Linked DNA regions of Homo sapiens. The protein of the gene in region 1 interacts with the protein of each later gene in a biochemical or structural test. Each region holds a gene or a part of one and is shown in the gene's direction. Other genes may lie near its edges. The genes, in order: PRMT7 and ASS1.

Region 1 (7,281 bases):
CAGAAACGTAAAAACCCGAAAAGACATTTCAAAGGGTCAATCTTAGTTTCTGCAAGGTGGTGTTATCTGCAGGAGGAATCAGGGAAGGTTGCAGATCTTGTGACCTAACAATGGCTTCACCTTAGCAGAATTCAGCCTCCTCTCATCCTCCTAACCTGATGATCTTTCATTCAGTTTAAGTTTAATTTTGGGGAAGGACGGTTATCATTTAAAGTATTAACCAGCTGGGTGTGGTGGCTCACGCCTGTAATCCCAACACTTTGGGAGCCCCAGGTGGGTGGATCATTTGAGGTCAGGAGTTCGAGACCAGCCTGGCCAACATGGAGAAACCCCACTTCTACTAAAAATACAAAAATTACCCGGATGTGGTGGTGCGTGCCTGTAATTCCAGCTACTCGGGAGGCTGAGGCAGGAGAATTGCTTGAACCCAGGAGGTGGAAATTGAAGTGAGCTGAGGTCACACCACTGCACTCAAACCTGGGTGGCAGAGCGAGACTCTGTCTCAAAAAATAATAAGAACAAAAAATAAACTGTTAACCAAATGTCTCCCAAAGTTAGCTTGGCCCGGACCCAGGAATGATTAAGGGCAGTTTGGACATTAAAGCAAAATGGGGGTTGGTTAGATGAGATCTCTTTCACTGTCATAATTTTCTCACTTTTTCGCAAAGGCAGTTTTGGTTTCAGGACCAAGAAATAGAACCTGTCTCTACCCAGGAGCGCCTCAGGCACCATCCTTTGTCCATGGTCCAGCCTGCCTGGCCTTAACCCCTGGCTTTGTGTTGAATGCTCACCTGCTGGTTCTAGGTGTCCACAACATTATGGAAGGCCTTAGCAGCTTCACCTACCCCATTCCCAGAGTTACTGTTTAGGCCGAAGGGTTGTGACTGCTGGGGAATTGCTGTCAATCAGCGTACCCATACCGACAGCAGCATGTGAGACTAAGAAGTATGTGAGCTTCCTAGTCTCCCCTCCACCTTCCAGGTGCCTGGCCCCGGGTGTGTGTGTGTCCAGCCAGGGCCTGCCAGCATCCCTCTGCAGGCTGTGTGTGTGTCACTCTGAATTCACCCACAGAGTTGAGATTGGCACCGCGTCACATTCTTCCTAAGACTGTGTTGCAGAATTAGCATAAGAATAGCATTAAAATGTTAGTACTTTTGGCCGGTGGCTCACTCCTATAATCCCAGCACTTGGGAGGCCAAGGCAGGTGGATCACCTGAGGTCAGGAGTTCAAGACCAGCCTGGCTAACATGTTGAAACCCTGTCTCTACTAAAAATACAAAGAAAATTAGCCGGGCATGGTGGCAGGCGCCTGTAATCCCAGCTACAGGGCTGAGGCAGGAGAATCACTTCAACCTGGGAGGTGGAGGTTGCAGTAAGCTGAGACTGCACCATTGCCCTCCAGCCTGGGCAACAAGAGCGAAACTCCGTCTCAAAAAAAAAAAAAGTTAGTACTTTTAATTTGCATATCTTCGGAGCGCTACTATGTATTTTTTCTCCTTGAATCCTCTTAGTAGACAAACAAGGTAACCACAACCATAGCCAACCCGGGACTCAGCAGGCTCCAGGGATTGGAGCGGGGCCTTGTGTCCAGGAGCAGTAGAGTGGGTCCTGCCCCTGGTCTCTTGACTGTGGGTCTTGTGTTGTTTCTCTACCAGCGTTGACTTTTGGATTGGAAATTTGAAAGCTGCTAATGAATCTCCCTCATGAATTCATGTAACTGCTTTGATCCTAAGTATATTTAGTCTGTCCCACCTTGGCACAGTGGGTTCTGTCACCAGCTCCTCAACGTTAGGACCCAGGAGGTCCCTGTGGTAGGTAGTATGGGAAGGACATGATGACAGGGCAGTGCCATGGGAGCCTAGGAGGGGTCGGGAAAGGGTTCTCCTGTCTTCTTCACATGCATTTGCATAGTGTGGGAATGAATAAAAGGTTTAAAAGAACCTGTGTTATTCCTGTTACTATTTATTTTTCCAGAACATATCTGGTCAGATTTTCATTTTCTAGTTTTTATGTTCAAGTAAGCGTCTTAAGCGTGTGGGAATGTCATTCTCCTGCCTTTTTGTTAAATTAAAGACCAGGTGGGTGGGCACATTCCTTACCTGTGCTCTTGGAGTCCCACAGGGCCAAGTTTTTCTTAGTTCCTGAAGGTGACAGAATGAGCAGGCAGTCGTCTCATCAGAGTTGAGCCAGGCATCTCCTGTTTTTGTTTGTTAGAGACAGGGTCTTGCTTTATTGCTCAGGTTGGATTGTGGTGGCACCTCTTAGCTCACTGCAACTGTGAACTCCTGGGCACAAGCGATCCTCCCACCTCAGCCTCCTGAGTAGCTGGGACTACAGGCACTTGCCACTATGCATGGCTAATCTTGTGTTTTTTGTAGAAATGGGTGTCACTGGTATGTTACCCAGGCTGGTCCCGTACACCTGGCCTCAAACGATTTGCCAGCCTCGGCCTCCCAAATTGTTGGGATTACAGGCATGAGCCACCGTGTCCAGCTGGCATCTACTTTTTAGGGCAGTTCTTCCTTTTTCAAAAAGAGGCTTAACAATTATGAGCGAAATAAACCTCATTATATAAAATAAAAATATCACTCATGGTCCTCCCTTTCACTCAAAATAGCTCCCTTTGTTTGGTCTCTCTCCAAACGCGTGGGTGTCATCGGTGCTCATCTCTGTTCCGGGCCCCGTGGCCTTCAGCAGCAGCGTTTAAGATGTCTGTCCGTATTCTGCACGAGGGTTTATATCCCGTTCTGAGTGCTGGCCATTTGGGTGGGTTCCAGTTTTTGCTGGTATAAATAATTCTGTGATTTGCATTTTTATGTGAATATAACTTTTTTTTTTCTTTTGGGGTTTTCTTAGGATAGAAACCTGTATGTGGGGTTTGTAGTAAGGACTAGCACAGCTTATTAAAAATTGACCGTGGATCATTGTCAACCATGTTTCACAATTTAGAATATTCAGTTATTTAAATACTTCAATTTAATTCAAAGAATAAGCCAAAACCTTTTTGTATTTTCCCACCTTTTTATTTTGAAAAATTATATATCCACAGAATAAGTGAAAATGAACACTGATGGTCGCTTTATTAATTTAAATTTACCAGTTGTTAACGTTTGCCACATCTGCTTTATCTTTGTCTTTCTGCCTCCCTTCCTGCATCTCTACACACACACACACACACACACACGGGCATGCACATTTTTTTTTTTTATTGCTAAATCATTTGAAAGTAAGTTGCAGACATCTGACACTTTACTTTTAAATACTTCAACACTTATCTCCCAAGAATGAAAACAGTCTGCAACATAAATGAAACACATGATCACACCTAAGAAAAACAGTGGTTCCATAGTATCGTCTAACATATGGTTCAAAATAAAATTTGTCTCCAGAAGTCCTTGATAGCTTTTGTTTCCTCAGTCTACGATCCAGTTAGGTTTAGTGCATTGAGTCTGACTGTTTTGTAAATTCCGAGTACGTTAAAGCCTTTGGAATGCGTGCCATGGACTGTTCTGAAAAGGTTCCCCTTAAACCACTAGGTTTAAACCAATTTTTTTCCTTCAAAGGAAACATTCAGCACAGCTCTACGTGTTGAAGAGAGAGCTTTGGTGCTACTCTGATGGGGTGGGGACTGGAGCCTGCACTTGTCCCCTCCCCTGAGCCACTCTGGCAGATTGCTGCTCTTGGCCACATTGTGTCTTCCTAAAGCCAGCAGGGTTCCCGCAAACTTTTGGGCCACTGGCCTCTGAGTTTAGAGTTTATTTATCTCCTTGGCCACAATAGCCAGCTGTAGTCTACATTGTGGACGTCCTGAAAACTGGCAGTTCTCTGGCATTTGGCTCCTGGATTAGAAGCATTGCTCATACTGCAGCTCGTTGACAGCTGACTCTGTTCTCCGTTTCAGTGGCGGGACCACTGGATGCAGTGTGTGTACTTCCTGCCACAAGAGGAGCCTGTGGTGCAGGGCTCAGCGCTCTATCTGGTAGCCCACCACGATGACTACTGCGTATGGTACAGCCTGCAGAGGACCAGGTACGTCGAGCCTCGTGGGGGTGGAGGATGAGCCTCTGAGACTTGTATGTAAATTCCCCATTTACAGATCCTCTGGAGGTGCCAGTGGGTTGATTTGTGTCTGGACAGAATAACATAAGAACAAAGATTTGTGACCAGTGTGTCAGTGCCCATTCGTGTGTACCCAGGAGAGGCTGTCATGGGTTGCTGGAATCTGTTTAGAGCAGATGCGTAGGAAAAGTCTGGAATTAGCGGGTGCTCTAAGCCCTCATGCCTACTGGAGACCAGTGTCCAGATTCATGCCCTCTGGAGACCTGTGGAGGCGCTCACAGCCCACGTCTGTTTGTTCATCTCCTGGCCTAGCCCTGAAAAGAATGAGAGAGTCCGCCAGATGCGCCCCGTGTGTGACTGCCAGGCTCACCTGCTCTGGAACCGGCCTCGGTTTGGAGAGATCAATGACCAGGACAGAACTGATCGATACGTCCAGGCTCTGAGGACCGTAAGTGTCCAGCCCCTTGGCTTGTTGTGGGGAAAAGGGAGAAAGAAGTTTGTCCCATGAACCCCAGCACTTTGCTTATGATTTGCTGTTTCTTTCCTGTGTCCTCTTGTCTATGAGTGGCTTCAGCGAGCGCCTCCTGGGTGGGCACTGGAGCAGAAAGCGGGAGAGCCTGGGGCTGGACTTCCTGAGGGCTTGCTCTCTGCTCTACTGGGAGAGCCTCTGGCTGGGCTCCTGCTGGACACCTTTGCCTTGTCAGACACAGTCATTGCTGTGGGTGGTCACGGTGGATTAGGCCACCCCCTCTTTTCATGTGTTGTCACCTTTCTAAAATTTTCTAAGATGTAAATCTGATCATGTCGCTCTCCTGCCTGAAAACCTTTGCTCCCTGCTACCTGTAGCAGGGGACTCGGCTTGGGGATTACAGATGGGGCTTAGAGGGAGGGTCTCTTGAGGCCCTTGGGGGTGTGTACAGAAATAGGTGTGAATGTGTGCATTTTGGGGGATGGGGGGAGGATCCAAGCCATCCTGAGTTTCTCTCAGAGGGGTCTGTCACCCAGAAAGGCATCCTTGCCTTTGGGCAGTCAATTGTGAACACTCAAGCCTTGGAGGCTCTCAGCTGTCTGTGCTCTAACCAGACAGGGAAGAAGCCTGTTGTCATGGACTGGAAGGTGGCCTGCAGGTGGTGCAGGCCTTCAGCGGGGCCTCTAGGCTGGGTTGAGGGGTGTCTTTCCTGACACTGGGGACAGGTGGGGAGATGTGAGCAAGGCGGGCATGTTTGTGGCTGGGGGTGGTTACTGCATGAGGACGCAGGGGGATGGTCTGAGGTCTGGGCAAGTGGAGTGAGAAGGGAAGTATTTCTGACAGCTTGCCAGCAGGAATCTTCTGGCAAACTGGAGGAAGCCCTGTGCTGAGCTTGCCTGTTCCCCGCAGGTGCTGAAGCCAGACAGCGTGTGCCTGTGTGTCAGCGATGGCAGCCTGCTCTCCGTGCTGGCCCATCACCTGGGGGTGGAGCAGGTACTGACATGCACCCTTGTCAGCCTCCTGATGTGGGCTTGTGAGTTAGAGCATTGCGTGGTCCGGGTGCACAATTCTGTGATCAAGGCTCTTTGCAAAGGCCACTGTTGTGGGCACAGCATGCTCGGGTCAGGGGCTGGGGGGTTTATTGCCTGTGCGTGCAGGCAGGCGTCAGGCCTCAGAGCTGGTGTTCAGGCTGCCCCAGGGAGGGAATGAGGGCAGGGAGGGTTGTTCAGGTGTGTCCTCTGTCTTAGGATGGTCTTGTCGCATTTTAATCTTTAATTTCTTCTCTGTTAAGTGAATATCTTACAACTAATAGCGTGGTGTTCCCTCTAGGTGTTTACAGTCGAGAGTTCAGCAGCTTCTCACAAACTGTTGAGAAAAGTAAGTGAGAATTGTTGTTGCTGAAATAGTGAGAGGACCTGTGGGGTCTGGGTTGATGGCTTTGAAGTGGCATTGGCCCCAGGGGAACAAAGGAGTGGTGGCTCGCTTGCACCCCTGTGTTGTCTTGGTTGCTGCCTGGAGAGCAGCCAGAGGCCTTGGGAGCTGTCACTGAAATAGAGGCAGGCATTTGCACTCTGCTTTGTTTTTTTGTGTCTGAAGAAGTTTAGGCTTTTTTCCTCACTTCACATAAGCTACTGTTGCGGTAGAATTAAATGTAGGATGTGTTTCTGGGACATCAGTGCTGAGGGAGCCAGTGCTCACAGCCTGATGGGAGATGGCATTTCTCTCCCTGGCCAGTAACTGGTTTGATTTCCTCTCCAAAGGGGAACTCCCTTCACCAGAACTGCAGGCTCGCACTGAGTCCTGGTGTGCACATGCGGGAGAAATTTCTTTTGCTTTTATCACATTGTGCTCCTGATCTCATCCGTGGTCTATAGGATGCCCCCCAAGGAGAGGATTTTTCCACAAAGCAGATAAAAGTGGTGTTCCAGAACCATTTGCCGGAAAATTCAAAGCGGAGAATGCAACTTTGAGAGATTTTTTTTTCCTGACAAACACAATACTTTAGTATGAATACAGTAATTTTACGGTTTTCTTTCTAAGATCTTCAAGGCTAACCACTTGGAAGATAAAATTAACATCATAGAGAAACGGCCGGAATTATTAACAAATGAGGACCTACAGGGCAGAAAGGTGAGTAGCGGGAGCCTTTTGGCCACGCTGGGCTGTGTTAGGGTGGTCAGCACGGCACTGAAGTAGCCCAGGCCCCACCCTGTCCCTGGAGTCTCACAGTGGGTCCTCCACATGCAACCTTACCTCCTACGAGCTCCCACCATCAAGGGTGTGGTGAAGCTTTCATGGAGCTGCCCGGTGAGCAGATGGTTGCACTGCTCTTTTTTTTTTTTTTTTTTTTTTTTTTTTGAAAATGGGGTCTCGCGCTGTCGTCCAGGCTGGAGTGCAGTGGCACGATCTTGGCTTACTGCAGCCTCGACCTTCCAGCCTCAAGCGATCCTCCCACCTCTCCCGAGTAGCTGGGACTGTAGGCATGTGCCATTATGCCTGGCTAATTTTTGTATTTTTTGTAGAGTCAGCGTTTCATCATGTGGCCCAGGCTGGTCTTGAACTCCTGGGCTCATGCGATCTGCCAGTCTCAGCCTCCCAAAGTGTCGGGGTTACAGGCATGAGCCACCACACCTGGCTGTACTGCTCTTAGCTCAGCCTCATCTCTGCTCCTTCAGGTCAGGACAGAGCAGCTCTCTTGGGGTTCCTAGGAGCAGAGCATGTCCTTTCCTCTCCACCGCACTCCTGTCTTCATT
Region 2 (5,095 bases), on another chromosome or scaffold:
GAGCCCCTGGAGGGGCAGGAGGGCCCTGGTGAGCCAGGGCAAAGGTGGCAGGTAACGATTGGCCACTCCTGTGTCCGCCCCGTGGATGAGAGTGACCTGCACCAAGGGACGAGGTGTCACCTCCAGAGGTCACCTGGCCAAACTAGAGATGGGGCAGGCCCCTGTGGGACAGACAGCCCCCACTAGACGTGGGTCCCCTAAGGCCCAGCTTAGCTCAGGCTAAGGCCAGCCCCTCCCTCCTGGAGGCTGGTTGGGAATTAAAGTACGAGTCTTGTTTGGCAGTCAATATTATTTTTTTCTTTCCCTTCTCCTTGCCATGTTGAGTTTCTCCCCGCTTCAATCTTTCTAAACACTTTATAAGCCATAAATACAACTGAGTCAGTTTAGATCAGTTGGGGTAAATGTCAAATTATCTTCTCTCTTTCTCTCTCTGGCTCTTTCTTCCCTCCCCCTCCAAATCAACAGCCTCTAATAATCTGTCCAACCCTTCATTAAGCCTTACAGTCTCACTCAGGGAGATTAAATGAATAAAGTAAAAAGGGAAAGGGGAAAAAAGAGAGAAAAGCAGGAGCATTTATTCTCACTGTGTCTCCGACCATTTCCCTTTTCTTTTTGATTTCTACATCGCTGACTTGAAAGCCCTTGAGTGACAGCGTCACAGGGACCAGCGAGGAAGCCGTGAGAGGTAGCAGAGCTGGAAATGCCGTGGCTCAGTAGGTAGAAAGTAACGTAATTATAGAGCAGGTCAGAGCCACTCGAATGAGCAAAAATAAAAGCACAGAGGTTTTCTGTAGACCGTCAGGGGAGGTAAAAAAAAAAAAAGAAAAAAATCATTGTAAACTCTTTTTCCACCTCCCCGCTCACTTCAAACCACAATTTTAAAAAGAGGTTTTTTAGTTCCTGAGAAACCCCTCTTGGAACTCCCAGCAGCCTCGTGGGACAAGTTTGTCCCTGGATGTGGGCCCTCTTTGCAGGGGCTGCCAGGGCAGCTGGGAAGTTCCCACCTTGGGGAACGGGATGGGGAGAGTTTGTTGTGACTTGTGAGAGATGGAGGTGAAGGGACAGATGGACACAGAGGTGGGGGGATTCTGTGTCCTACGTTCTCCCTGGGCTGAGTATAGGGGCCAGTGGGGCTGAGGCTCGGTTTCTAAAACAAGGTCTGTTGAAGGGATCTGAGGAGGTTGGTGGTCTAGTTTGGTCTAGCTCTTCCTAAGCACTGACTGCACAGAAAGGGGTGGCCAGCAAAAGTCTGGTATCTCCTCCTCTTCCAGGGAATGCAAGCTCCTAGTGGCTTCAGTGCCTGAGCCCTGGAGGGGCCGTGGAGGTGTGGAGGAGGGAGGAAGGGACATCAAGGAGGTACAGGAGCATGGGAGTGACTCTGCAGAGAGTTCCACGCACCCACCGGCTTCAAGGCCTGGTGAAGGTCAGGGCCCGGGTCCTGAACAAATCACTGGGGCCAGGCAGATGCAGAGACCTCATTTGTTCTTGTAAAAAGTCCACTGTCTACAAAGAACCAGTCAGAGGGCCAGCCTCAGGGTCTCAAAGCAGCAGATCCTCCTGCCTCCCAACACCGACCCCCGCTACCCCTACCTCGAGAACCTTGAGTCAGCTTTGTCCCAAGGCTGGAATTCTGCAGACAAGGGTCTGATTCAGAGCAGGACATGACAAGGGACCCCATCCTCTCAGAGGCTCAGAGGCTGGCCTTGTGGAGTAGGAGGCATCTGAGTCCACGTGCCCTAAGTGCTTAGCACAACCATAATTAATGAAGGCAATGGGTGATTGATTGCTTCGGTCTGGCCCCTCCCTGTGGACACCACTCTTGCTCTTCCTTCCTTGGCACCTGGCCCAGCATCTGGCAGGCAGCAAGGGCTTAATAAATGCCTGAACAAATGAATGAGTGAATGAATACTGTTAGTACTAGTGGGTGCTCACCATGTGCCAGGCACCAGCTACATTATTTCATGTGGGGCCAAATGTGACACTGAGAGCTAACCACCATCACGCATTTCACAAGTGCAAGGCTGAGGCTCCGAGTGCAGGAATACTGGCCTGGGCTCTCTGGTGGCGGGTGGCGGAAACAGGACGCAAACCCCAGTCAGCTGGCTGGAGTGACTGCCATGGTTAGGAAGGTTGGGAGGAGCAGCTAAGGGTGGAGAGCCCCAAAGCAGAAGGCTGGTGAGTCTGAGAGGTGGAAACTGTAGAGAGGTAAAATCTGCTCTGCTGAGTACAGCAGCAGTCAACCCAGCATTTTCCATGACACACTGGCAGTGGGTGCCCAGGTTTCAGGATGGATTAGGTAAGGTCTAACTGGTTGGACACATGAGGGGAAAGGTGACTTGGTGGGCCCATCTCGCTGTGAATGCTGGAGGCCTCCCTGCAGCTTGCGAAATGCCCTTGTGCTATTGCAATTCACACCCCAAGGCCTCCTGAGCCTTCAGGTCACTGCATGCCATCCACACAGTCCCAAGGGCACAGCTGGCTTGGACGAGTTACCCATTTACAGACAGAGTGCTCTGGTTGGTGGAATTCATAGGGCTAGTTCTGGGGTGGCTGCTCCTAGCCTCCTGCCACATTGTGTAGCAGGGAAGAGGCTGCTGTGTGCTCCACTAGGGCTCTCCAACCTTTGGGTGGGTGCCTGGCCCAGAACAGGGTTCCCTGAGTTGTACAGAAATTCAATGGAAAGCCGACGTGCAGGGAGGGTTTGGACCCACACAGGGGAAATGCCCTGGCATCTGGGAGGTGGGGCTGCTTCTGGCCCCAGCAGTCCTCCCTTCAAGCAGAGGCCAGGGCCAGGCTGAGCTGACAAGCTTCTACTCTCCTTGCAGCATGAACGTGCAGGGTGATTATGAGCCAACTGATGCCACCGGGTTCATCAACATCAATTCCCTCAGGTGAGAAGCTCAGGGCCCTGACGGGCCTTCAGAGCCTCCAGGTGTAAAGGGTAGGCTTTGAGAGCCCCCAGGTGTAAAGGGTAGGCTTTGATGCGACCTTGACTGCTGCCCTGCCCTGCCCTGCCCTGCCCTAGACAAACCCCACTTTCCTGTCCATCTGCCCATAGCATCCTCAGAAGCATGCTTTGATAGCCGACAGTAACAGAGGGTCCTAGGCATTGGGGTCCTAGGTTCCTGTGTCCCACCGGGTGCCTCTGATACTTGCCCTCCCCTCCCGCTAAGCCACAGGGACTCCACTATGAGCTCCTTTGCAGGGCAGGTTAAACAAGGAAATAGCATAGAGGTGGAGAGAAGCCTTTGTTTTCTGTCACCATACCTGAGCTGTAGGTCTAGCTGGAAGCCATCCTAGCCACGTGGATCTCCATGGCCCAGGAGGGTGGTGCACGTCATCTGAAGTCACTCAGACCTTTGATCCTCTGTGAGTCACCAGTAAGAGTGTCAGCTGTACCTGCCTCACAGATGCAGTGAAGGTTCAATATGAGCCTGTGGAAATCAAGCATGCGGCTCAGGCTTAGACCCTGGCATGCAGGAAGAGCCAGGGGCAGTGCCAGCAGCAAGCACACTCAGCCCAGGGCCGGTGTGCTCAAGGGCAAACAGGGTCGTTTGTCACCAGCAGCTAACATAGACTAAGCTGCTCTGGGACACTCTCCTAGGATGTCTCATTTAATTCTTACACAAAATTTGCAACTCCCCGGGAACAGGCTGAGTGGTTAAGTAACTTTCCAAGGGTCACACAGCTAGGAGGTGGTGGAGCTGAGTCCGGAGGGCCTGTCCTGCTGTGGGTTCTCCATCACCAGCTCCCTTCTCATGGGGATTGGAGTCTAGAAGAAGATGCAAGTCAGTCTCCTCTTGCTAACAACATGCCCTGGGCACAGAGCCATCATTTTCTCCCAGAGCCAGTCTCTTGTCCCTGGAGGCACCTCATGCCCCGAGAGATGTTGAAGCCCGCCCATCTGCCCAGGGTCCTCTCCCTTCCCCTCCGTCACCTCCACCTCCCCTGCCTCCTGCGCCCTCTGTTTGTATTTTATGACTCTATAAACCCTTTTAAATGGCCCAGAACAAACAGGGCTTACATAGTGGCCTCTTCATTTCTCCTATTGCCAGTTAAACGCTTTGTCTTCAACAATGACAAACAATGTTTTCCCCCTAAGATAAATTAATTACATTATCCTGATTGGAGGGCAGGAGGGGCCAGGGCGGGAGAGGGAATAGAAAAAAAGGCAACTTCACACACATCTTAACAAACAGCTGCCCCAGCCACCCCAGCTCTGCCTGAATTAATTGAACCCAGTGTGTGTTGTTATTGTTAATTTACATTTTTCTTTGTTTTGAATCTGGTTTACAGGCTGAAGGAATATCATCGTCTCCAGAGCAAGGTCACTGCCAAATAGACCCGTGTACAATGAGGAGCTGGGGCCTCCTCAATTTGCAGATCCCCCAAGTACAGGCGCTAATTGTTGTGATAATTTGTAATTGTGACTTGTTCTCCCCGGCTGGCAGCGTAGTGGGGCTGCCAGGCCCCAGCTTTGTTCCCTGGTCCCCCTGAAGCCTGCAAACGTTGTCATCGAAGGGAAGGGTGGGGGGCAGCTGCGGTGGGGAGCTATAAAAATGACAATTAAAAGAGACACTAGTCTTTTATTTCTAGTGAGTGTGTGTGTGTGTGTGTGTGTGTGTGTGTGTGTGTGTGTGTGTGTAGTTAATTATGGTTTTCTTAGGCCAACCTTTGTGTTTTCGGACCTAAGTGCTGCCGAAGGCCGCCATTTGCCAGACAGCCTGTTAATCTGGCAGTCGACCCCTCTCCAGCAAAAACTAGGAATCCAGAAGTGCCGCCTGGGTCCGATCCTAGCCAGCATCCTGGGAATCTGTCACCAACTGTGGTCCTGTGGCAAATGTCAGGAAACCAAATAAAATTCAGGGAATGCCCTTTGGGGGCATCAACGCACAGCCCTTTCTCTGGACATCACTTTTACTCACAGCCCACAGGGAGCTTCTATAGAGGGTGGCCATGAGTGACCCTAGGACACTTACCACAGCTGCATGGCCTAAAGCAGCCTAAATCATGAAGGAGGAGGGAGAGGCCTGAGCAGAGAGGAGAAAAGAGCAAGCCCGGAACTTGGCAGCATTTCTCATTGTCCACAAACCAG

The links.
Region 2: the proteins of PRMT7 (region 1) and ASS1 form a complex in vitro, tested with the Homo sapiens proteins (one study listed by IntAct).

Annotation. Positions count from the first base shown.
Region 1 is NC_000016.10:68,341,774-68,349,054, forward strand, and holds part of PRMT7 (protein arginine N-methyltransferase 7), read left to right. Parts: intron 1-3,901; coding exon 3,902-4,029; intron 4,030-4,371; coding exon 4,372-4,507; intron 4,508-5,437; coding exon 5,438-5,521; intron 5,522-5,857; coding exon 5,858-5,905; intron 5,906-6,568; coding exon 6,569-6,658; intron 6,659-7,281. UniProt on the Homo sapiens protein: Arginine methyltransferase that can both catalyze the formation of omega-N monomethylarginine (MMA) and symmetrical dimethylarginine (sDMA), with a preference for the formation of MMA.
Region 2 is NC_000009.12:130,496,680-130,501,774, forward strand, and holds the end of ASS1 (argininosuccinate synthase), read left to right. Parts: intron 1-2,825; coding exon 2,826-2,891; intron 2,892-4,296; coding exon 4,297-4,342; 3' UTR 4,343-4,595; downstream 4,596-5,095. UniProt on the Homo sapiens protein: One of the enzymes of the urea cycle, the metabolic pathway transforming neurotoxic amonia produced by protein catabolism into inocuous urea in the liver of ureotelic animals.